Linked DNA regions of Homo sapiens. The protein of the gene in region 2 interacts with the protein of the main gene of each other region in a pairwise test. Each region holds a gene or a part of one and is shown on either strand. Other genes may lie near its edges.

The links.
Region 1: the proteins of HEMK1 (region 2) and SOHLH1 interact in binary tests that used the Homo sapiens proteins (3 or more experiments, as listed by UniProt).
Region 3: the proteins of HEMK1 (region 2) and SPRYD7 interact in binary tests that used the Homo sapiens proteins (3 or more experiments, as listed by UniProt).
Region 4: the proteins of HEMK1 (region 2) and ASCL3 interact in binary tests that used the Homo sapiens proteins (3 or more experiments, as listed by UniProt).

The regions. Positions count from the first base shown.
Region 1 is NC_000009.12:135,696,460-135,704,030, reverse strand, and holds the start of SOHLH1 (spermatogenesis- and oogenesis-specific basic helix-loop-helix-containing protein 1), read left to right. Parts: upstream 1-4,549; 5' UTR 4,550-4,563; coding exon 4,564-4,628; intron 4,629-4,904; coding exon 4,905-5,036; intron 5,037-5,554; coding exon 5,555-5,702; intron 5,703-6,403; coding exon 6,404-6,525; intron 6,526-7,225; coding exon 7,226-7,419; intron 7,420-7,571. UniProt on the Homo sapiens protein: Transcription regulator of both male and female germline differentiation. Suppresses genes involved in spermatogonial stem cells maintenance, and induces genes important for spermatogonial differentiation.
Region 2 is NC_000003.12:50,572,503-50,579,536, reverse strand, and holds part of HEMK1 (MTRF1L release factor glutamine methyltransferase), read right to left. Parts: intron 6,167-7,034; coding exon of another isoform or gene 5,711-6,166; exon of another isoform or gene 4,837-5,710; intron 2,486-4,836; coding exon 2,351-2,485; intron 2,029-2,350; coding exon 1,964-2,028; intron 1,712-1,963; coding exon 1,662-1,711; intron 717-1,661; coding exon 611-716; intron 1-610. Other genes in the region: uncharacterized protein C3orf18, read left to right, coding at 5,711-6,166. UniProt on the Homo sapiens protein: N5-glutamine methyltransferase responsible for the methylation of the glutamine residue in the universally conserved GGQ motif of the mitochondrial translation release factors MTRF1, MTRF1L, MRPL58/ICT1 and MTRFR.
Region 3 is NC_000013.11:49,926,317-49,933,350, reverse strand, and holds part of SPRYD7 (SPRY domain-containing protein 7), read left to right. Parts: intron 1-2,216; coding exon 2,217-2,333; intron 2,334-5,265; coding exon 5,266-5,432; intron 5,433-7,034.
Region 4 is NC_000011.10:8,937,078-8,940,050, reverse strand, and holds the end of ASCL3 (achaete-scute homolog 3), read left to right. Parts: intron 1-1,877; 5' UTR 1,878-1,889; coding exon 1,890-2,435; 3' UTR 2,436-2,473; downstream 2,474-2,973. UniProt on the Homo sapiens protein: Transcriptional repressor. Inhibits myogenesis. Plays a role in progenitor cells which differentiate into ductal and acinar, but not myoepithelial, cell lineages in the salivary glands.

The DNA.
Region 1 (7,571 bases), on a different chromosome or scaffold from region 2:
GCTCCCGAGCCCAGCCAAGCCCAGGTCCTGCTCCCTCCCCAAGCCTGACGCCTGACATCCCTCCACTGCCGGCGGCTGCTCTGCCTGCAGTGTGACAGGGAATCTCTGTTGCAACGGAGGCCAGCTCAGTCCAGCGGGGAGGAGGAGCTGTCCCGGGCCGGTGGGCAGGGCCAATTGGGAGAGACAGGTGTCTGGAAGGACCCGGAGGATGAGGCCTGGAGCTAAAGGCTGGACCCTGAGGACACTGTCCTGCCGGCTCGTCTGGAGCAGGTCAGGCCCAGCAGGGTAGGTGATAAACTCCAGCAGAATGGCCAGGGAGGGCAACGCTAGGCTGGGGAGGGAGATGGTAGGGGCCGGCCAGCCCACAAAGATGAGGGCAATCCAGGACCCCCTTGGGGTCATTTTCTCTGTGCCTGACAGGCATCCCCCGGATAGTCCCTCAGAGCACGTCCAGGCTGTGCCCACTTCCCAAGGACATCACCAAGTCACTGTCCACCCTCAGAGCACCTGCTCCTCACACACGCTGTACCCCGGACTCCCCCGGGTGCCAGGTGGGTGCTGTGCCTGCCTCTTGATTCTGGGAACCTCCTCTCCAGCCTGGTCCCTCACCAGAGGCAGCCCTTAAAGACCATCCGCCCTACCTCCTCATTTTACACTCGGGGAAACTGAGTCCCATAGAACAAACAGGCAGCCGCACCAGGCCTCCCGCTCTCAGGTATGCTCTTCCACCCCCTTCTCTGGCCTCAGGACAGCCTGAGACTGGGCAGGATCCAGAAGAAAGGGCTCTGTCCTGGTGGGGAGGGGTTCGCCCAAGGCAGTGACCGGCTCTGCCCAGGGTTCCCTGGAGTCTGGCTCTGGGGACAGGGTGAGGGGCAGACTTGCCTGTTTTCAAGAGCTGAGGGATGGGGGAGAGGATGGGGAACCTGGACCCTGGGGCAACCTCCGCTCAGGACTGTCCCACTCAGCTGCCGGTCCGTGCCTCTGCACTGGTCACTGGGTGGACGGCAGACGCATGGCATCCCAGGACACTGCACAGGGAACAGCTAGCTCCAGGTCACCTGAATGCCATTCTCAACTGGCCCTCTCCTCCCAGGGATAGGCCAGCGGGGAACGAGGAGTGACCAGAACCCAGGACTCCCGCCCTCATCTGACAGCCACTTAGCCCACTTCCCACTGGGGACTCTTCCTTGGAAGGTTGCTCTGGAAACCCCCTACTGTGTGGGGTAACCTCGCCGGGCACCCCACCCTGGCCGAGCACTGCCATGCCACACAAGAAGGATGGAACCTTCCTCCCCAAGCTGGGGTGGGGCAGGGGCTGGGGGAGATGGAAGGCCCTGCACCGCCCCCAGCCTCCCTGCCACTCCCCACACCTGGGAGATGCTCAGGACCCCCATGTAGCCACGGCCGCTCCCCCCAGCTTCTTACCAGGTCGAGGACAGATGGGGACGGACGCTGCTGCCTCGGCACCTGCTGATTAGTGCGGCCCACCCTGAGGGGCGCCCCTGTTCCCCAAGGTGGTTGGGAGGGCACTCGCGGGTCCTGGGGAAGTTGGATGGCCCTGGGAATGGCGGGTCCTGGAGGGTGCGGGAGCCTGAGGGGGAACTTGGGGGTCTTAGGTTAGACCGGGGCCTCCCCGCGTGGGGAGGGCGCAGCAGACTGTACCTGGGGGCGCATTGGCCGTCGTCAAACTCGAAGGTCCGGTTGGTGTAGCCCCCGCCGCGCGCCTCCCGGCAGACGCCCCCCGGGGTCCGCGCCCCGTCAGGGAGTGGCATGCGGCCTGGCAGCTCGGACCCGACCCGAGGGAGAAGCGAGTGGGAGCCGCCACCTTCTTCCCTCGCGTTGCCCTGAAAAACATTTTTTTTTTCCTCGCAGATTAGCGAGGAAAAGACGCCAGTTCCAGGGTCGGGTGCAGGCGTCTGTCCGCGCGCGCCCCCTGCCGGCCGCGCCGGGACCCGCGGCGGCTCTGGCCCAGGCTGGGACGGGGGTGCGGGGTAGGGAGGGCGATCCGCTCCCGCCGCGGCCCTCTGAGCCCTCAAAACTCCGAAAAACAGGACGGGGTTCGTCAATGGCTAGAAAAGCCCAAGCGCGCCGCCACCGGGCCCTACACCCCTGGGAGGGCTCCGTGGTGGGCGGGGGCTCAGGGGGCTCTGGGTCCTTGGCGGGCAGCAGGGCACATGCGCTGCTCGGACCGCCAGCGTCCAGCCGCTGCGCCCAGGGACCGTCAGCACCTCCCGCTTGTGCTGCTCTGCCGTGGTCAACACTGGTCATTGAACACAAGCCAGATTCAAGACGACTCCCCGCCCCCCCGCCCCCACACCCCCCGCAGGCTGCGGCATCTGTGGGTGGGCGCCACATCCTGGGCTTGGCCTGGGGGAGGGGGATGACTGCACCCCGCCCTGTGCTCTCACCCAGACGGGCACACACAGCACCTTTAGACGGGTGGGGAGGGGCCCCAACTTAAGATGCTGCAGGCCAAAGACTAGGAAGCAGAGGGTCCCCCTGCGGGCCCCCTTTCCCGTGCACGTGCTCACACTGTTACACATGCGTCACCCTGGCTCAGCCTCACACAGAGCTCTGGAGAACTGCGATTTCTGTCCCCAGAGCTTTGTTGGTTTGCAGGGTGGACCAGGCCCCTCACTAAGCCAGGACTGTGCCCACGAGGGCCAGGGGGAGGGCCAGGTCCATTTGGAGGGCGCATGCCATGTACTTTGTGGTCCCTGGCCTCCCCAGTGTCTCTCCAGAGGGTCCTTCCCTGTTTCTCCAGGAGGCAGCAGGCTGAACACAGATGCTTTTGAGGGGTGGGTGGGGAACACTCGGGGAAGTCTAGGATGCTAAGTCCCCAGCAGAGGTTCAGCCTGTGCCCCCGCCACACAGCTCGTGGGCATCTTGGGGGTTTTTCCTCAGGTCCCTAGATTGGCCGGTGCTGCTGCCGGGGTCCCACCACCCCTGGGCGGGTGCCGCCGGGGCAAGATGGTGGCCTTTCTGCCAACGCCCTCCTGCCTGGGGAACTCAGAAAAAACTGAGAGGCCGCACCATCTGCATCTGTGATTAATTAGCAGTAATTACACGTGTTGTCAACGGCAGGAGAGTCACAGGTTTGATGACATTCCGAGGGCTTTAGGGAAACAAAAACTTGGCCCCACTCTGCCACTGAGGAGCCCCAGATCGCCAGCCCGTCCATCCCTCCCTGGCCAGGGGCAGGGCCGGGAGAGGGGCCCAGGTCCCCGAGAGCTTTTGCCCTCCTCTCCAACCCCGTCCTCCTCCATGTCTGACCTGCAGCCAAGGCTGGGCGGAGCAGGGATGGAGACACCACCTTATATTACATAACCTCCCTCTGCTCCAAACACCCTTCACCCATCTTTGGCCCAAAGTCCAGGATGCCAGCCCGAGGCCCAGAGCCGCGCCTTCTCCACAGGAGACTGGGGCACCCCGGACAGACGTCCCCGTGTGGTGGCACCTGCCCGGGCTCCTTCTTGCCTCCCCTCTCGGGAGGAGAGCCCCTGCCACCCACCCCACCTCCTCCCGCTACGACCTCAGCACGAGCCAGGCCAGGGATGTCCTCCCAACAGTCCAGCCTCACCCCCCACCCTCGTCCCCTCTGCTTCCCTGAGGGCCCCCCGCAACCTCCGTGAAAGAGGAAGGGTCTCCACCTCCCCCTTCCCTCCGTCATCCCCCCAAAAGTATGTACTGGGGGACTCAAGCCCAGCGCAGGGCGGCTCCTGGAGTTCAGCGGGGAGGTGAGCAAACACCTGGCGCCGGAGCTTTCTGAATTTGGATGGGCAGGACCCCCGCGATCCCGCAGAAACCTGTTGAGAGTGTGAGGTGAGGGGTCGAGCTGGGGCCCCAGGGCATAAAGCGGGGATGGTGCTTGGGCAGGGCCAGGTGAAGGGACAGACGGTTCCGAGGGTGCCCGGCAGAGCTCAGCGGGAGGAAGAGCACGGACGATGGTGGCCTGGGGTGGGGACAAGATGCCCCTGGTTCTGGGCGACCCAGAAGTGTGGATGGTGACCCTACCCTGAGGCGCAGCGTCTGCAAGCGTACTAGATTTGGGGGAAAATGGAGGCGTGGGCGACTGGGGAGCAGGCGGGTACCCTTCCCCCTCCCTGTGTCCCTGGGTCCCCCAGGCCTGGGCTAAACAACTCAGCCCAGCCCGCCCACTCCCACCAGGGGCTGGGCTCCTAAGGGCAGAGCCCGCATCTCCAAAGTGCCCAAGGGCACCGAGACCACCGCATAAGTGGGAACCGAGGCGACCCCCGGGAAGGTAAGGGTAGAGGCAGGGCCACCTGGGCTGGGGCCCCTTCCCCTGGCGTCCTGCGGGGGCATAGAGTGGGTGGACCCCCCGAGTCCCTTTCCAGCACCTTCTTTGCAGGAACGCGGGTCACGTGGGCCCCGGGCTGGCTGCGTGGGGAGGGCTAGAGCGCATGCGCTATGGGGGCGGATTGCAAGTGGGGGTGGGGTGGGCTAGGTGGAAAGCACGTGGCAGGTGGGCAGAGCACACGTGAGGGGGCGGGGCTGCCTGCGGAAGGGGCCGTGCGCGTGGGGTCGCTCCGCAGCTGCGAGTTCATGGCGTCCCGGTGCTCCGAGCCCTACCCGGAGGTCTCCAGAATCCCTACCGTCAGGGGATGCAAGTGAGGAATTGGGCTGGCGGCCAAGGGGTTGGGGGCCCAAGGCCTGTACCCAGGGGTTCTTCCGCAAGTTGCTGGGCTCCACCCATCCTGGGCCTCCTGGGGCGGAGCCCTGGACCCTGGGAGAGGGGAAGGGGTGCAGAGAGGGCCGGGCCGTGTCCCTACGTGACCCAGTCTTGGCTTCCACCCGCACCCCAAAGACGCCCATTCTGGCATCTGGGACTCCTGGTGGCCTTTTCTGGGGTTCTCAGGGCCCGGTGCTCTTGGCTTTCTCGGCAGCGGCTCCCTGTCTGGTGCCCTCTCCTGCTGCGAGGACTCGGCCCGGGGCTCGGGCCCGCCCAAGGCCCCTACGGTGGCCGAGGGTCCCAGCTCCTGCCTTCGGCGGAACGTGATCAGCGAGAGGGAGCGCAGGTGAGTGGTGGTGCCTCCCAGGGGTGAGGGCGCTGTAAAGGGGTGGAGCGGGTGAGATTATGTTCGGGGCTGCCACCAGGTGTCAGGCAGCTGGGAGGGGCTCGTGGCCTGTGCCCAGGAGAAGGACAGACTGCACATCTCCAAGTAAACCAGAAAAGCCCTGTTGGGGAACATCCTGCAGCCCCTCTTTATCCTGAAGCCTTGGCCTCTTGAGGCTGTGCACCTGTGACCCTCTGTGCTTCTGACTGCCTCTGACCCTCGCTGTCTTTTCCACACCGCAAAGCAGCCATGGTTTGGGCCTGGGCTGGACAGCCTGTCGCCGAGGTCCAGGGGTCAGGCCCAGGCTGTGCTCTGATGTGGATCTCGGGGCTTCAGACCACGGGGGCAGCTCTGAGTCATCTTGTAGCCCCCTCTGCCTGACAAGCGCCCAGGGTCTATCTGGCAGGTTCTAGCAGTTGCTGTCCCTTCTCGGGGAGGGCAGGAGGGCCCAGAGGTATTTGTTTCTTGACCGGAACCAGGAAGCGGATGTCGTTGAGCTGTGAGCGTCTGCGGGCCCTGCTGCCCCAGTTCGATGGCCGGCGGGAGGACATGGCCTCGGTCCTGGAGATGTCTGTGCAGTTCCTGCGGCTTGCCAGCGCCCTGGGGCCCAGTCAGGAGCAGCACGCTGTGAGTTGTAAGGGTAGACGCCGTCAGTCCTCCGGCATCACGGTGATGGGACATCTCACCACCTTGCAGGCAGTGTGTCCCCTGTCATCCCCGTCTCCTTCAGCCCTCTGGGTCTCCACGGCTAGAGCAGGCCACGTTTTCGGCAGGGCACTTCCTGATTTGTTCAAGCCTTACCTGTTGTTATTCTGTTCCTGGAAAGGAGCAAGCCTTCCTTTCCAGCCCTCCTGTGCCCCTGAGTCCTGTTCATTGATGGGTTGCCGAGATGCTCCGTGCCAATTTGGGGGAGAGTTGGGGTCTCCTGATCCTCCCTGGCTGAGCACCCCCTAGATCATTTCTCTGCACGTCTCCAAGAGAGAGGCTCCTCTCCCCTCTCCAAGGCTCTGGGGGCTCTGGCTGACCCCGTGAGTGCTGGGGCTGAGGACCTGTGTGGGGAATGAAACTGTGTTGTCATCTGTGAGGTCAGGGGTCCCAGCATTTGCAGTGAGGCCCTTGGGTATGCACAGCCTGATTCAGGAATGGTGGGGCCTTTCGGGGGTGGAACCTCAGCCTCGTTGTCAACCTGTACTCTCGCCCCCAAGTTCCAAGCGGGGACCGAGCTCACAGTGACCCTCCAGGCCCTGGGGTAGCAGTCTTGTCACCGTGTCTTGGGTTTCTCAGCTGACTGTCTCTGTCTTTGTTTTACATGTTTACTTAAATTTCAGATTCTTGCTTCCTCCAAGGAAATGTGGCACTCGTTGCAGGAGGATGTTTTACAGTTGACGTTGTCGAGTCAGATTCAAGCAGGTGTGCCAGACCCTGGGACGGGAGCGTCCAGCGGGACTCGGTTAGTGTCTCCTGGGGCCCGCTCTCCAGGGCTGGGTGACCCTGGGAGCAGCAGACCCAAAGCCCCCTGGCATGTCCTCGGGAGGGTGTGGCCTGGAGGCCCGGCTTGGCCTCCGCAGGTGGTGACCTGCCCAGGGCCCTGCCAACTCAGGTGGCCAGGTGTGAGGTGACCAACATGGGCGAGCTCCAGCAAGGGGGGAGCGCGGTCAGCAGAATTGAGGGCCTGGGCTGGTGTGGAGGTGGGAGGTGCCCGGGAGGATCTCTTCTGCTCCTGTGTGTGGGGAATTTACAGGTGGTCAGTGAGGTGTCATACTCCTCCCCATGGGCAGCTTCAGGAATGCAGTTTTCTGAAGTCAAGATAATTTGGTTCTTTTCAGAATGGCAGCTCCCCAGGTTGAAGGACTGTCTGCATCTTGTGTTTAAATGTACCCATTTTACCCCAAAGCAGGCTGGGGCATGGGACTGGTGGCTAATTAGCTGTGGAAGAATCTAGAACCGGAGGAGTTGGGCAGAGGGAAACTGGGTAGACAGCTGTGGAGCTTGGCTGGCCCAGGGCCCCTGGGCAGAGGCTGGCTTGATGCTGGGTGGTGCCTGGGGTGTCCTGGGGATGGGTCCAGCCCTCTGCTCTTGGGGTGGGTGGGGGCAGCCTTCCAGGGGGCTGGGGAATAGACCCAGGATCCTTGTCATGTTGCTCCTTCTAGAACCCCAGATGTGAAGGCGTTTCTGGAAAGTCCTTGGTCCCTGGATCCAGCGTCGGCCAGCCCAGAGCCCGTGCCGCACATCCTTGCGTCCTCCAGGCAGTGGGACCCCGCGAGCTGCACGTCCCTGGGCACGGACAAGTGTGAGGCACTGTTGGGGCTGTGCCAGGTGCGGGGTGGGCTGCCCCCTTTCTCAGGTGAGTCCTGGGTGTGCATGTGGGGTGCCTTTGGCCTGGGGAGCGGCGCCAGGCTGTGCTTTAGCCCTAAGAACAATGGGGGCTGTTTGCAAACGGGGTTCGAAGTTTTCCCAGGCCCTTGTGTTGGTGAGAAACCCACGTGTTGAGGGATG
Region 2 (7,034 bases):
TCTGGGAGATCTGGGGCTAGCCCTGACCACTCCTGAGAGCCCAGAAAGGGAGAGCCAACACCCCAGCCCCATCCAACATGACTGCTGCCCCATCCAGGACTCCTGGGCTGCCCCTGGTTCTCAGCCCCTGTGTAAGAGCAGGATGGCCTGGCACAAAGCTAGCCTGGGGCCAGCTTTTAGTCCCGGCTTTCCCACTGAGCCCCCATGCGACCACAGACAAGACACCTTCCCTCTCTGGGCCTCAGTATTCTATAAAATGATGCGCCCATCTACTGAGCACCCTGTATGAGCCCTCCACTGTGTTTGATGCTTTCAAGTCGTCACTGAGTCCTCCCGTGGCCCTGCAGAGCACTACCTCTCTTTTTCTAGAGGCAGGAAACAGGTCCAGAGAGGTTCGGTGGCTGTCCAGTAGTTTTAGTAGGAAGTAAGGAAGTAGGAAGGTAGAAGCTGAATCTAGGTAGGACTGTGGGCTCTCGAGTGCGTCAACTTAACACCATTGCCCATTTCAGCACCAACTCCCCTGTCCCTCCAGATGGTGTGGTCCTCGAGGGCAGACTAATCCCATCAGGCCTTTTCAGGCCTGGCCTCCCTGGCCCACCCTGCTTAGCACCTGCGGATCTCAGGGGCCAGCTGCTCCATGTCCTGGTGGAAGACGTAGGGAGGGTTGCTGACAATCAGGTCCATGGGGCCCCAGGGCAGGTGTGTCCAGCTCCTTTCTGTCGTCAAAGAAGAGGACACACAGTAGGGACTAACCCATTGGGAGGTAAAGGATGATAGCTCCACCTGCCACCATGTCCCTCTCACCATGCCACACCTTGGGCCTGCCTCTGGATCTGATAAGCCAGACCTGCAAATTAGTGCCCAGGGTCCCCAGCTGGCAGCCTGGTGGGGAATGTGCATGCTTTAACATGGCAGCCCCTCATTTCAAGGCATAGAGTGTCCTTGCCAAAAATCCTCCTTATTATGCAAGACTCTGTTCAAGTGCCACTTCCAGGGCGTCCTCCCTGATTGCCTAGGCAGAAAAGAGCCTTTCTCTTCTGTAGCTCCACTAGCCTTATAGCCAACATGGACTGAGAGTACATGGAGGGTAGGCCTGGCCTCATCAGCCAATTCCTGATGGCTCTGACTACTGGTTTCACCCTGTGCCAGGTGCTACACCAAGTATATCACATTCCATGGAGGGGGCACTGAGGCTCAAGGATCCCACGGGTAAGGCAATGGAGCCAGAACTGGAGTTGGAGGCCTGGAGACACTGTAAAGGCTATAGCTGAGCTGTGCAGTGCCTGGACCACTTCCCCTGCCAGGCAGGGGGAAAGGGGCACTCAAGTATTTTGGTCCTGAAGGCATTATTTTAAGCTTTTGCTTATCTGTTGCCAACAAGCAAGCCCTTAACTCATTGGTTGTGAGGAATTCGGAAGTTCTCTGTGGCTGGTCCCTTATGGGTCAGGTCAGCCTAGGAGGCAAAAGCACCTTGTCTGTCCTCAGCCAAGGCTTCGTTTGAGCTGCCACAAACGTGCACACACACACGTGTATGTGTGTGTGTTGTGTGTGGCTGTGTGGCTGTTGGGGGAGCTCTCCCTCCATCTCCACGGAGTGCCTCATCCACCCAGCAGCACCTGCATCTAGTCTCCCTCTCTCAAGGAACATGCAGGGGAGGGTACCTGAGGTCATGTCGAGGTGGATGATCCAAATCCTGTCCTGCAACCGAAGCCTACACAGACAGGGAGAAAGGGGTAGGCACGGGGGCAGACCCCTACCCTTCACTACAAGAATGAGGTCTTATAGTCAACCCTTCTTGGACTGGCAAGATACTCACTGCCCACTACCCATTCAGAACCCCATGGGACCCATGCCAGGCTACCCCACTGCTTCCTCCTTCTTGGGAGTAGAAATCAGACATTGGTGAGTTTGAAACCTGAAAAGGAGTCAAGATTAGGCCCCAAAGTGCAACTCCCCCACCTACCTCTGAGCATTCTCATGGGTCAGAGAGATAGCAGCTTCCCGCTTATCCACAGCAATGACTCGGCTCTGTCCCAAGAACAAACAGAGGATATGTGGAAGGCAATGCTGAGAGATGCTGGAAGATACTGGGCCTGGGGGACCCTCCTCCAACCCCCCACCAGAAGAGAAGGGAAATACCCAACAGCCTTTTCTTCTTGGCCAAAGTCTAGCCAGATAGATGTGGTAGGCGTTAGAGTCTGTGAACCACAGTGGGCTAGGGGCAGCCCTGTCCTCCCTCATCCAGCTGCTTCCCCTCAAGCGCTCCTAGCAGAGGGATGTGGGGGAAGCACTAATGGGAGGGACAGTGAGTGTCAGTCACAGTCTATCCAGAGTGGGTGGAGGGGCTCACCTGGGGGAGCTGGCTCAGCAGGCTGAGGGAGATGGCTCCTGATCCGCAGCCCACCTCCAGAATGAGGGGGCTGCCTGGGGATCCCACAGCATGGGACCTCTGGGCCACCTCTTCCAGCACCCACTCAACCAGTTCCTGTGAAGCAGAGGGATCTGGATCAGAGTCGGTGCCAACGTGGCTCCTGGGGGTCTTGGTACAGAGGCCTAAGCAGTTACCCTTGTGAACGTAGGAAGGGGAGGTAGCCAAAGCCAGACTGACCTTCATGTCAGCTGGGGCATGGCCAAGTCACCCTGCCCCTCCAGGCCTCAGCTTCCCCATCTGTACATCTGAGCCCAGTTGAGGATAGCCCACCTCGTGGGGATGTGGTGGGGATTAAATGCACTAATCCACACCTGTTTCATGTTAAGTGTTCAATCAACCCCAGCTAAGCCCTTTACAGACATCCTCCCATTCTGTGCTTACAGAAATGCTAAGAACTGGCTGGGCACGGTGGCTCATGCCTGTAATCCCAACACTTTGTGAGGCTAAGGTGGACAGATCACTTGAGTTTGGAGTTTGAGACCAGCCTGGCCAACATGGTGAAACCCCGTCTCTGCTAAAGGTGTGAAAATTTGCCAGGCATGGGCATGGTGGCGGATGTCTCTAGTCCCAGCTACTCAGAAGGCTGAGGTGAGAGGGAGAATTGCTTGAGCCCGGGAGGTAGAGGTTGCAGTGGATCAGGATCGCGCCACTGCACTCCAGCCTGGGAGACAGAGCAACACTCCATCTCAAAAGAAAAAAGCTAAGAACCATACCTGATAGTTCCTGTCCACTCCCTCTGGCCTGACCCTGCTCCCAGAGTTTTTCCTGTATTAATCTGTTAAATCCTCACAAGTGTCCCATGAGGAAACTGAGGCCTGGGGTCAAGGCCCCACCTGAGCCTGGCCTGTGGTTTCATGGTGGCCAAGAATCAGGAGCTGGTGTGTCCCCAGCCTCCTCACAGAGCTGGGCTTGAGAGGCCCCCAGGGAGGCTCCTAGGCCAAAGGGACAGGGAATTCCCTCTTTTGGAGGAGATGGGCCATGGGGGGACATGGTCCTGACTAAGGACCTGAGGGCTGTGGCATACACAGGCATAGGTCAACAGGCATGGGTGCAGAGGGAGGTGCCTGACTGCACTGTACCTGCCCTGGCAGCAGGAGGACATTTTCAGACACTGTCACTTTGGAAACAAGAGGGTTTCAAGCCTTGCCTACCCAGCCACTGCCTGCAAGGACTATGCCTGTAAACCAACATAGGGTAGGGGTAAAGGGTGGAAGGCTCCTGCCGTCCAATGGCCAAAATTTTTCTAACCAGCAGTGGAGTGGGACACCTGAGTAGCCAGGCATGAGACAAGGAAAGGGCAGTGTAGCTCCTTCTCAAAGGCATCCCTTTGGATGTGGGCAGAGAAGCCCCCCAGAGGGTCAGGACTCCTGGGACCCCAGGTCTCAGGAAAGACTGGCTCAGGGAGCTGGGGATGGTGGGCAGCAAGTGGGTGCTTCCCTGATCTGAAAAGAGGACTACCTATTCCAGAAAGCCTTCCTCAAGCCTGGGCCAGGCTCTACCACGGCTTTCTCCACCCTGAGCCTAAGGTCTAGCCTAAGGATGGGGTGTGCCTCTCCCACCAGACGCCATAATAGGAAGACCTGAGGTCTGACTCATCGCAGTGTGTCCCACACTGGCAGGGCTTGGCCCACAGACAAACCTCTTGGCTACTTTCTTTTTTTCTTTTCTTTTCTTTTTTTTTTTGAGACAGAGTTTCGCTCTGTTGCCCAGGCTGGAGTACAATGGCGCGATCTTGGCTCACCGCAACCTCCGCCTCCCAAGTTCAAGCGATTCGCCTGTCTCAGCCTTCCCAAGTAGCTGGGATTACAGGCATGCACCATTGTGCCTGGCTAATTTTGTATTTTTAGTAGAGACAGGGTTTCTCCACGTTGGTCAGGCTGGTCTCGAACTCCCGACCTCAGGTGATCTACCCGCCTCAGCCTCCCAAAGTGCTGGGATTACAGGTGTAAGCCACAGCGCCTGGCCCTCTTGGCTACTTTCTAAGTGATGGGCAAGCTCTCTGTGGCACCACCCTCTGAGTCTCACACCCCCAGGTCTCCCCCACACCCCAATGCCATCAGCCAGGCCCAATGGAGCAGAGGGCTCCAGATCACTCACACCCATTTTCCACATAAGTTCCCCAGTGCTGGGTTCCAAAAAGCATCTCACCCTTCCAGGCCCCCAAACCCAGCAACAATGTTCACCCACCCTGAGGGTGGCAAGTCCAAAGCAGGCAGAACTTGGCCAGCAGGTCCAACCCTCCATGTTCCAAGCCTCTTCTGCACCTAACAAATGATTGCCTGTGGGTGAGGGGGCCCAGTTCCAGCAGGAGAGAGTGTGTATTCACTAGCTCTCACCAGCCCTGTGCCAGGCACTACTGGAGACCACTAAGGTACTTGTGGCAAGCTTAGCCTGCAAGGTTGGGCCAGGTACAGAGTGAGCAGTATAGGGCTGTGGCTGAGAGCCTGTGGTCTCAGTGGTGAGGCCACAAGCTGAGAGGTTGGTAGGGTGACCAGTTGTTGTCAGGTGTGTAAGCCTCTCTTGGTTTCCTGGTCATAGACAGACCTACTCTGGCTGGAGAATGACCCCTCAGCCAGCCACACTGGCCAGCCACCTCACAGAGATACTCAAAGACCTCAAAGACACACACCACGTATGTGGATGGCCACCTTGGGGAGGGTAAGAAGCTAAGAAACTGAGCCCCTGCCACCACTAGTGGCCTCTTGTTTGCCATAACACTCCAGAGCACCGGAAACTCATCTTGGTTGTAGAGCCACCTGGGGCAGGGGTAGATAACAGCCCAAGGAGTCCAGAAACTTTCTCTTCTCCTCCTAGTGAAGAGCCTCCCTCAGCCTAACGCTGGTGGCTCTTTCGGCAAGACTAAAAGCCATGCTGGTCACAGGCTCAGGGCACCCCCTCCAGGTGAATATGGTAAGAATCCAAGAACAGGGTGGGGCACAGACGCATGCGGGAAAGAGGTGAGGGGCAGGCAGTTGTTGGCTCTGCCTAGAACTGCTGCCCCAACATGGACTCCATACCCCATCAAGAGGCTGGCCCAAGGCCTGGGCAGAACCTAAGTGCCCATGAGTACCCTCTATTAGGATGGCATCCCTGGTGGGGCAGACCCAGGGAGGTGGCATTGCCTCCTTCAAGCCAATCACAGACAAAACACTGAGCCTCCCACAACCTGTACAGCCTCACAGCAGGCTGGGTGAGAATGGTTCACACCCCCAGCCCTGAGTTTCCTACTGTATTCACTGCCAGGCCAGGGGCTGAACCACCTTCTCACCCTTAGGGAAAATGCAACTCACTGGGCACATGCCTCCTGCAAGTTTGCACTTCAGACTCCCCTTTCATCAGAAACCATCCCCTGCACCCATTCTCACTACTCCCTGCCACAGGCCACGTCCTCTTGAGTTCTTGGTAAGGCATCCCCCGATGTGGCTTTACATTGGGGTGAACCTGGTGAGTTCTCAGAAATGTCTGCACAGCAAGATGAGCACCTGGCCTCCCAATCGCAGCATCTCCCCTCACCCCACCCCTTGCAGTAGAGCTGCTCTCTTGGCCCAGACCCATCCAAGAATCAGGGGGCCACATGGGAGCCAAAGTCCACACTTGATACTCAGAACCCTGGCACATATGGCTGGTGCCAGGTCAGCTCTGAAGGAACTCAAAAGTCACCATGCCCTGACCCTGGGAAGCCGGAGACAGCAAATGATCTCTTCGCCAGAGATCACGTGTTTTCAGGAGCCACAGGTAAGCCTCCCAAAGTCTGCAGGTGGCAGGCCACACCCTGCTCTGGGTCTCCATACTGTGTCCTAGGTCATGCCAATCCCAGATGGGGCAGCCCCATGTGAGGGATGGGGCTCTGAGCTGGGAGTCAGGAAGTCCACGTGCTGCCCCCATGCTCCCTTCCTTGACAGCCCTGTGACTTCAGCAAGGCCTCAGATTCCCTACTGTCCCTGCCCTGACACTGGGCAGTGAAGCAAGGACCTGGCCTCCCAACCACATGATATGGAGAGGAGAGGGGTCAGAGAGTTTCTTGGCTAGGGGACAGAAGCTGAGAAAGTGAAAGAAGGGTTTGGGGCCCCCTGGCCACAGCAGGGGAATGGGAACTAACCTTTCCCAGAAATGTTTGTGTGCCTAGGTCTTTCTAGAAACACTCCTTCTCAGAACCTGGCGCCCTCTGGCTTGCCCACCAGCTCTCACCCAGCTCTACTCCCTGGTCTGCGCCCTCTGGCTCCCAGCTCTGTCATCTACAAGGTCAGAGGGGAGTCCAAGAAGGGCCATATAAAGCGTCTCTTCCAGGACCAGGGTGCCTTACCAAGGGATAACACACTTGCGCCACACATCCCTAGTCCTAGTAATTTGAGGGACAACACAGGTGATTACCAGACCAGTCAGTAGACCTAAGAGGGCCACCAGATTCTCTGGGCTGGAGGGCTAACCCTCTCATCATCTGGGCCCAGAGATGGCAGGAGGGCAGTGACCTGCCCAAGGTTGCACAGCTGATACCAGGTCTCCAGGTGTCCGGCTGGAGCCCTCTCCACTTCCTCCATGCCTCCTGAGAAGCTGCTGGAAGACATTTGTTCCCTGTGGGTTGGGTGAGCCATGGGATGGCTCC
Region 3 (7,034 bases), on a different chromosome or scaffold from region 2:
GGGATTACAGGTGTTAGCCACCTCGCCTGGCCAAGAGTGTTATATCCCATTGTGCTCTGCAAAAGTCCTGAGATTCTGATTGTAGTTGATTAGGTCATGTAGCAGTTCTTGACTCAGTTACTGTGGCCAAGAAATGTGGAGGGCACTGATTGCCTTAACCTAGATCAAATGTTGTACACCTGAAGCAGAGATTGAGTCAGCTTTCTTGGAACTGTTTTGATCTCCAGAGGGAAGTCTGTCGGGAGAGGGAGAACAGATACTGCATGTCCACTACAAAGTGCTTAGCACAGCATATTAATTCAACCTTTATCAGTTATTTGATGAGCAGCTGCTCAATGCCAAGCACTGCATGGTCTTTGCCATCAAGGAGGATGCTCTCCAGTTGAAATTACTGGAGGTATATGGAGTAGCCAGATGCAAATTATTTATAAAGGTACTTTCCCAGAATTTGGGGGTTAACTTTTTTAATTAGAAAAAAAAAGATGTTAATGAATTTTTAGTAATCATACAATAGGATCTCAGTTTTGCCTTGTTTAAGGGAGAGCATCTCTTAACCAGTTTAGAATTGTGTTAGAATCTGAAAATTTTGCATTTCTTTTATGTATTTGTACCAAATAATTTTGTTTAACTGTTAATTCAACCTTTTGTTACTATGACCTAATTTTATTTAACCCCTTCTGGAAGAGTCCCATACAGTTCGAATATTCAGATCTGCTTGGCTGGTACAGTTATTGCCAGCAAAGTGGTGGTAGTGGCCACAAGTATGGGGAGTTATGCATTGGTGTATGGGCTATTTCTTACATATTAGAATTATGTAATTCTGTGTATTCTTACATGTTAGAATTATGTATATTCTCTGATAGACATTTTCCTAAATCAAATTGGTACTAGGATCACATCAGGAGACAGTGTCTCTCTTTCTCACTCTCATCTATAGATGTCGTTTCATCTAAAAAATTTTCTACGAGAATAAAGTGCATGTAAGAATGTTAAAACCTTGTTTACATATTTGCAATGTGATTGAAGTAGCTATCTTAATAAACATTTTAAGATCCTAAAGTTAGCAGTTTGTCACTGTCAGGTATTTCAACATAGATGTGTGTTCTTTTTCATATTCCCTGTACTCTTCAGTTCTTACATGACTAATGCACAAGTATAGTAGCTTGTATTTAGTAGGCATTCAGGTGGCTTTTAGTAAATTGTTTTAATTCATTTGAATAGAATTGAAAACTACCAATTTACTAAAGTCTCTTGTGTTTATGTTTTGGTTTAAATTAAGAAATTTATGAAATCATCAAATTGGTTTCCTGGCTAAAAATTAAAAGAGTTAGTCTATTTCTACCTTAAAAGTGTTTTGAACGTTCAATATAATTCAGAGTTATTGCAGTTTACTTGAAACTGCTTAATTAAAACTTACTTCTCTCGCCCAGGCTAGAGTGCAGTGGTGCAATCTCAGTTCACTGCAACCTCTGCCTCCCAGGCTCAAGTGATCCTCCCACCTCGGCCTCCCAAGTAGCTGGGACTACAGGCTTGTGCCACCACACCAGCTAATTTTTGTATTTTTTATAGAGATGGGGTTTTGCAAGGTTGCCCAGGCTGGTCTCGACTTCCTGCACTCAAGCAGTCTGCCCACCTCGGCCTCCCAAAGTGCTGGGATTACAGGTACGAACCACTGTACCCAGCATGCTTAATTAAAACTTATACATACAAATGAATATTACTTATAAATGTTCTCTTAGGAAAAAATAGTGAATTAAATATTTAAAATAATTCAGCTATATTTCAAAGTACTTACAGTGTCCCTATTTTTTGTGGACTGAGTTAGAACTGAACAAATTAATCCTGATTGTTGGATTGAAAATAGAAAACTTGGCCAGGCGCGGTGCTTCACGCCTGTAATCCCAGAACTTTGGGAGGCCAAGGTGGGCGGATCACGAGGTCAGGAATTCAAGACCAGCCTGACCAATATGGTGAAACCCCCATCTCTACTAAAAATATAAAAATTTAGCCAGGTGTGGTGGTGCACACCTGTAGTCCCAGCTACTCGGGAGGCTGAGGCAGGAGAATCACTTGAACCCAGGAGGCAGAGGTTGCAGTGAGCCAAGACCGTGCCACTGCACTCCAGCCTGGGTGACAGAGCAAGACTCCGTCTCAAAAAAGAAAAGAAAAGAAAAGAAAATACAAAACTTTACATAGTGTCTGCATTTTTTGTTTAGGAACAGATGTTGTTATTGTAAAGAATGGAAGAAGAATATGTGGAACAGGAGGTTGTTTAGCCAGCGCACCTTTACATCAAAACAAAAGCTATTTTGAATTCAAAATCCAGTCCACAGGTTGGTATAATGGTACTTTACTATTAAAAGTCCTAATTGTTCTAAATATTAAGAGTAATTTGTAACACATAAAAAAGATTCAGAAGGTAATATAAAAGCACCAAACTCTTAGAAGATCTGGGTCTTCCACCTCTTGTTGTGTGATCCTGGGTAAATTAGTTAATTTAGTTAAATTAGGTTCAGTTTTCTCATCTATAAAATGGGTATTACAGGAGCTGCCCATTCTGCCTCACAGGAACTCTATGTATGAAAGTGTTTTAAGACAAGACATGCTGCATAAATATAAGGCACTAGTATTTTTAATGGGATCCGGATGAACCCTCTTGTTTGGTCAAGCATATAAGGTCAAACATATAAGCAGCATATACTCTTGCTATTTATTTTAGGATTAAAGTCAATCTGTTGATTCTGAGTTTTTCTTTTTTTTTTTCTTTTTTGAGATGGAGTCTTGCTCTGTCACCCAGGCTGGAGTGCAGTGGCGCGGTCTTGACTCACGGCAACCTCCGCCTCCCGGGTTCAAGCAATTCTCTTGCCTCAGCCTCTTGAGTAGCTGGGATTACAGGCATGCACCACCATGCCCAGCTAATTTTTATATTTTCAGTAGAGACAGAGGTTTCACCATGTTGGTCAGGCTGATCTCAAACTCCTGATCTTGTGATCTGCCCTCGTCGGCCTCCCAAAGTGTTGGGATTACAGGCATGAGCCAGAGTTTTTCTCTTAACTCAGTTATTAAGATACCCTGATTCAGTGTTTTGAAGCAGTCATCAAATTCAGAATTCAGATAGAAGTCTGCAGTCTATATTTCTCTTTTTAAAATTTATGGAGTTTCTTGAACTGTAAAGCAATTCTATGTGATTATAATAGGTTAGTTAACTGTGCCTGTATTGTATATGGGAAAACTTTTAAAATAAAAGCTTTACTGTAAAGTGATCGGGCATAGTGGCTCACACCTGTAATCCCAACACTTTGGGAGGCCGAGGTGGGCAGATCACCTGAGGTCAGGAGTTCAAGACCAGCCTGGCCAACATGGCGAAACCCCATCTCTACTAAAGATACAAAAATCATCCAGGCATCGTGGTGGGCACCTGTAGTCCCAGTTACTCGGGAGGCTAAGGCAGGAGAATTGCCTGAACCCGGAAGACAGAGGCTGCAGTGAGCTGAGATTATGCCACTGCACTGCAGCCTGGGCAACAGAGTGAGACTCCGTCTCAAAAAAAAAAAAAGTGGCTGGGCGTGGTGGCTCACGCCTGTAACCCAGCACTTTGGGAGGCCGAGGGGGTGGATCACGAGGTCAGGCATTTGAGACCAGCCTGGTCAACATAGTGAAACCCCGTTTCTACTAAAAGTACAAAAAATTAGTCAGGCGTGGTGGTGGGCGCCTGTAATCCCAGCTACTCGGGAGGCTGAGGCAGGAGAATCGCTTGAACCCAGGAAGAAGAGGTTACAGTGAGCCGAGATCGTGCCACTGCGCTCCAGCCTGGGCAACAGTACAAGACTCTGTCTCAAAAAAACAAATACAAAAACAAAAACAAAACAAGCTTTATTGTAAATAAACTTCTAGTGAAATACTGCATCAGTAATGTGGGTAGAGAATAGGAAAATGAGAGTGGAGTAAATGAATCTTACTATTACTTGGCCAGCCTTGAATGATATAAAATTTCCCCCTAGGGCTTATTTTCTAAATTATTTTTACTTATTTATTTATTTATAGATGGGGTCTTGCTCTGTCACCCAGGCTGGAGTGCAGTGGCATGATTATAGCTCAGTGCAGCCTTGAGCTTCTAGGCTGAAGCAGTACTCCTGCCGCAGCCTTCCCAGTAGCTGAAACTACAGGCTCAAGCCACCGTGCCTAGCTCTAAATTAGTTTTAAATAATGATTTTCAATGGGGCATGGTGGCTTACACCTGTAATTCCAGCGCTTTGGGAGACTGAGGCAGGAGGGTTGCTCAAGGCCAGGAGTTTGAGACCAGCCTGGGCAAACATAGCACAACCCCATCTCTACAAAGAAAAGAAAAATTAGCTGGGTGTGGTGGCTTAAAATACTGGGTAAGAAAATGATTTTACACCTTATTGTTAATTTCTCCTCTCCATGATATTGCTTATGGTATATATTGTTTGTCACTCATTGTAGATGTAAAAACTGAAGACAGTACATTCCCACTTTTCAAAGGGAGAGCTTGAAATTGAACTCCAGGCCATTTAAATTCAATGTGTAGCTTTTAAAAAATCTTTTTGAGATAATAATAATGATGATGATGACAGCTAGCATTTTCTGAATACTTACTGTGTGCTTTACTTTCTCATGCTGTGGAGTACTTACACTGTTCAAGTGCTTTACTTGGATTATCTTGTTGTATCTTTTCATTACCTTGCAAGGTGAGTACTGTTAGAATCCTCAGTTCACAGATAAGGGAACAAAGAGAGGTTAGGTAATTTGCGCAAGATGATGTAGCAGAGTCAAGATTTAATCCTCATTTGCACTGTTCCAGGGCCCACTCTCTTATCTCCTAGGCTGTACTACATCTGTGGAGAACATAGTATAGTTTGCAAACTACTTTTATTTTATTTTATTTATTGAGACAGGGTCTGGCTTTGTCGCTCAGGCTGGAGTGCAGTGGAATGATCATGGATCACTGCAACCTCAACTTCCCTGGCTCCAACAATCCTCCCACCTCAGCCTCCTGAGTAGCTGGGGTTACAGGCACATGCTCCCATGCCCAACTAATTTTTGTATTTTTTGTAGAGACGGGGTTTGGGCATGTTGCCCAGGCTGGTGCAAACTACTTCTAAAAGAAGATTTTTTAAAAAGAGTAATAGAAAACAATTTAGTGTTAATACAGCACTTCCTTTAAAAAGTTTATACTCCCTTTTAAAATAACTCGATGGTTGTAGTCTTCAGATTTTGAGGGCATTTAAACTGTTATATTTTTAGGAATCTGGGGTATTGGTGTTGCAACTCAGAAGGTTAACTTGAATCAGATTCCTCTTGGCCGAGATATGCACAGTCTGGTGATGAGAAATGATGGAGCCCTTTACCACAACAATGAAGAGAAAAATAGGCTGCCAGCAAACAGTCTTCCGCAGGAAGGAGATGTGGTGGTGAGTTCCCTCATGGAGTTGCTTTCCACTGTAAATGACTAAATTTGAACTGCTTTTAGTATCTACAGCTTTGTCTGGGAGTTTGTGGTTTGAATTCCAAAGCAGTGGGATTGGATCTAATGAGATGGTGCATTTTCCAGGAGAGCACTTGGTGTAGATGTTGCACCCTACTCAACTGCCCCCTCCTTTTTAGAGCTGCCACTGGCTGGGAAAATCAGTGTGAACCCTTATTTCTACTCTGGAGAATTAATGACAGGCTGTCTGCTGATCACACATTCCTGTTTCTCTCACATTAGAGAAAACTTGGCCCACAATTCTAAAAGTTTGCTGAAGCTTATATTAGAAAATACTAGTTATTTTTAAGGCTGGATATCTCTTAGGGAAAATGTTCACATTTATTTCTTCTTCTTGTTTTTTTTTTTTTTCTTAGAGTCTCGCTCTGTCACCTAGGCTGTAGTGCAGTGGCATGATCTTGGCTCACTGCAACCTCTGCCTCCCAGGTTCAAGCTATTCTCCGGCCTCAGCCTCCCGAGTAGCTAGGATTACAGGCGCACACCACCAGGCCTGGCTGATTTTTTTTATTTTTAGTAGAGACGGGGTTTCGCCATGTTGGCCAGGCTGATCTCGAACTCCTGACCTCAAGTGATCCACCTGCCTCGGCCTCCCAAAGTGCTGGGATTACAGGCATGAGCCACCGCGCCTAGCCACACATGTATTTCTTAATTTGTTATGAAATTCTATTAAGAGAATTACAGCATTTTATCAGAAATGTTCATCTTCATTAAACTTAACCTAATTAAACTCTTCAGAGAACGGAACTCAAAATCCTAAAGCTTGATCGTAGAAAAGTTTTTTTTTTAGAAAGCAGAGGATAGTAAAAGTTACACGTTATTAAGACTTTTCTGTTTTTACTCCTAACTGGCTATATTTAACTCTTTACAAAGCTAGCACATTGAAAATGTAATCCAAAGATTTCTTTCTGTCTTTTCCAGATACTTCCTTCCACACTGCATTATCCAAAACCCCTCCCTATCCAGAGGTCAGGCCATTGATTTAGAACAGAGTCCTAGAGTCTCCTTCAGCCGAGGTGCCCTTGTACACTGAACCTTGGGTTCTCAATTCTGATATCAAGTTGAAAGGAATCTATGAATAATGAGAGAAGGATTCTAATAAGATGAAAAGATAAGAGAAATCCAGGTTAATTAATTATGAAAAGGTACAGTATTTTAGAAAGAATGAAGAAAGGTGTGGAAATTAAGATTTTTAATTACGGCCTGATCTTTCTTCTCTTTTTTGCAATTTAAAAAATATGAACAACTGTAAGTTTTTAATTGTTGGAAGTTTTTTTTCCAGAATTGACTAAAGAAAAAAAGGAGATGAAAGGCATAAGCCATTAAAAAAATCTGCTTTTTCCCATGCTTTTTGAATAGTTGGTTCTGTATTTGTAGATCATTGCCAGATGCCCATAATATGGAACATCCTTATTCAAATGGTAATTTCTTGAAAGAGAATCTTGAAGTCAAGTTGATGCTGTCAACCTGTTTACCCTAAAAGATGAAATTCAAACATAAGAAAGGATAATCAGTAACAAATGTTTTTCTT
Region 4 (2,973 bases), on a different chromosome or scaffold from region 2:
AGCCATGATCACATTACTGCACTCCAGCCTGGCTGACAGAACAAAACACCACCTCTAAAAATAAAAATATAAAATAAATAAAAAAATTTAAAAACCTAAACATAGCTGCACTTTACTCAATATATTTACAGTTCTACATATGTAAAAACTTGTATATTGACTATGTTTTAAATGTGTAGGGGAAGTTTCTCACCTAAAGGAGTCCCATAGTGAACATTTAAGAGCAAATGATTCCTTTTTTATTTGTATTTTTGGTTTTGCCTCTAGCACATCAGGTATTCTTTAAGAAGGCTATGCCTCTGAGGTTGCATGATCATTAACTAATTCATAATTTCCCTTGCATATATTTGGGTATTTTGGTGTTTCAGCCTTTCCCACACTTTTTTTATTTGCATGTCTTCACGATCACCATTATATCTTTGTTCCACCTGTACTATTATTTACTCACTCTTTGTCTTTAAATCAAATCACGTTTCTTACTCAAGTAGATTTAGTTTTAAGACAAACCTTATGGCCGGGCACAGTGGCTCACACCTGTAATCCCAGCACTTTGGGAGGCCAAGGCGGGTGGATCATGAGGTCAGGAGTTTGAGACCAGCCTGGCCAACGTAATGAAACCCCGTCCCTACTAAAAATACAAAAAATTAGCTGGGCGTGGTGGCGGGCACCTGTAATCCCAGCTACTTGGGAGGCTGAGGCAGGAGAATCACTTGAACCCGGGGGGGCAGAGGTTGCAGTGAGCCGAGATCGTGCCACTGCACTCCAGCCCAGGCAACAACGCGAGACTCTGTCTCAAAAAAAGAAAAAAAGGAACTTTATGTCGCTACCATAAATGTGAAATTACTAGAACTCACAATAAATAGAAGTTAGTAAAGACACTGAATTCTAACTAGACGCTATTGCTTGTTGAAGGCTTTGATCTTAGGAGGATTAGAAAGCATTCTAGGCCAGGCACGGTGGCTTCCTGTGTGTAATCCCAGCAGTTGGAGAGGCTGAGGCAGGCGGGTTGCTTGAGCTCAGGAATTTGAGACCAGCCTGGGCAACATGGCAAGACCCTGTCTCTACAAAAACATACAAAACTTAGCCAGGCGTGGTGATGGCCACGTATGGTCCCAGCTACTCAGGTGGCTGAGGCAGGAGGATTGATGAACCTGGGAGGCTAAGGCTCTAGTGAGCCATGATCACACCACTGCACTCCAGCCTGGGTGACAGAGCCACACCCTGTCTCAAAGGAAAAAAAAAAAAAAAAAAGAATTCTAGTGGTGTGGTGTGGAAGACACATTCTCAGCAGACTAAGGTTGTATCTTTATAACCACAAGGATTGAAAAAGAACGGAAGGACAATAACTTTCTCATAAGGTGATTCAATGTTATTTAGTGCTGTTTCTGTGTACCATCAAAAATCCTCTTACTACACACAGAATATTATAACACCATCTCATTGTCCACATGAGCTCAGAAATTGGTCATCAAAGCAGAAAAGTCTTTAAAACATTGATCTCCGGCCGGGCGTGGTGGCTCACACCTGTAATCCCAGCACTTTGGGAGGCTGAGGCGGGCGGATCACAAGGTCAAGAGATCGAGACCATCCTGGCCAACATGGTGAAATCCCATCTCTACTAAAAATACAAAAATTAGCTGGGTGCAGTGGCAGACGCCTGTAATCCCAAGCTACTCGGGAGGCTGAGGCAGGAGAATTGCTTGAACCCAGGAGGCAGAAGTTGCAGTGAGCCGAGATCACGCCACTGCACTCCAGCCTGGGCAACAGAGCCAGACTCCATCTCGAAAAATAAAATAAAATAAAACATTGATCTCCAAGAAAGTAGATCATATCTGCTCTCTATCTGACCACATTGTTAAACTTGGTTATGTTTGCAGGTTAAAGAGGAAATGATGGACAACAGAGGCAACTCTAGTCTACCTGACAAACTTCCTATCTTCCCTGATTCTGCCCGCTTGCCACTGACCAGGTCCTTCTATCTGGAGCCCATGGTCACTTTCCACGTGCACCCAGAGGCCCCGGTGTCATCCCCTTACTCTGAGGAGCTGCCACGGCTGCCTTTTCCCAGCGACTCTCTTATCCTGGGAAATTACAGTGAACCCTGCCCCTTCTCTTTCCCGATGCCTTATCCAAATTACAGAGGGTGCGAGTACTCCTACGGGCCAGCCTTCACCCGGAAAAGGAATGAGCGGGAAAGGCAGCGGGTGAAATGTGTCAATGAAGGCTACGCCCAGCTCCGCCATCATCTGCCAGAGGAGTATTTGGAGAAGCGACTCAGCAAAGTGGAAACCCTCAGAGCTGCGATCAAGTACATTAACTACCTGCAGTCTCTTCTGTACCCTGATAAAGCTGAGACCAAGAATAACCCTGGAAAAGTTTCCTCCATGATAGCAACCACCAGCCACCATGCTGACCCTATGTTCAGAATTGTTTGAGTTGCTGTTTCCAAATAGAAATGAATAATATCACAAAATGGGGTCTCTTACGGCATCATTCAATAGTTTTTCCTAAATGTAATTTCCATGTGGGCAGGAAATAGCTCAAATGCTAACCTATGCTGGGTATTACTCGCTTGGGCTTCAATTGTACTAAACATGATCTCATGTAGGTTGAGGAGCTGCTCTGCTTCTTTCACGAACTCTAGGGGAGCAGGGGGCCCCAGAGTTTCTGCATGTCTCACCCTGCCCTTCTCACATGCTCGGCCAGAGGCTGAGCATGTGAGAAGCTCTCACGGAAGCTTGTGAAGCGTGACTGCTAACTACCTGATGCCGGTCGTCACTTCGCTGAAGCGTCGTGCTGAGCAATCACAATGAACTTCTCTTTATTTGTCAACATTTGGAGATTTTTACTTATTGGGGATTGACAAGAAGTCACCACCATGGGAAAGTGTCTTGGGGCTAAAGTGAAAGTAGTTTACAAAACCTTGTTGTTATTTGAAATTATTTCAGATGCATCATTTTCCTGCATGCAGAC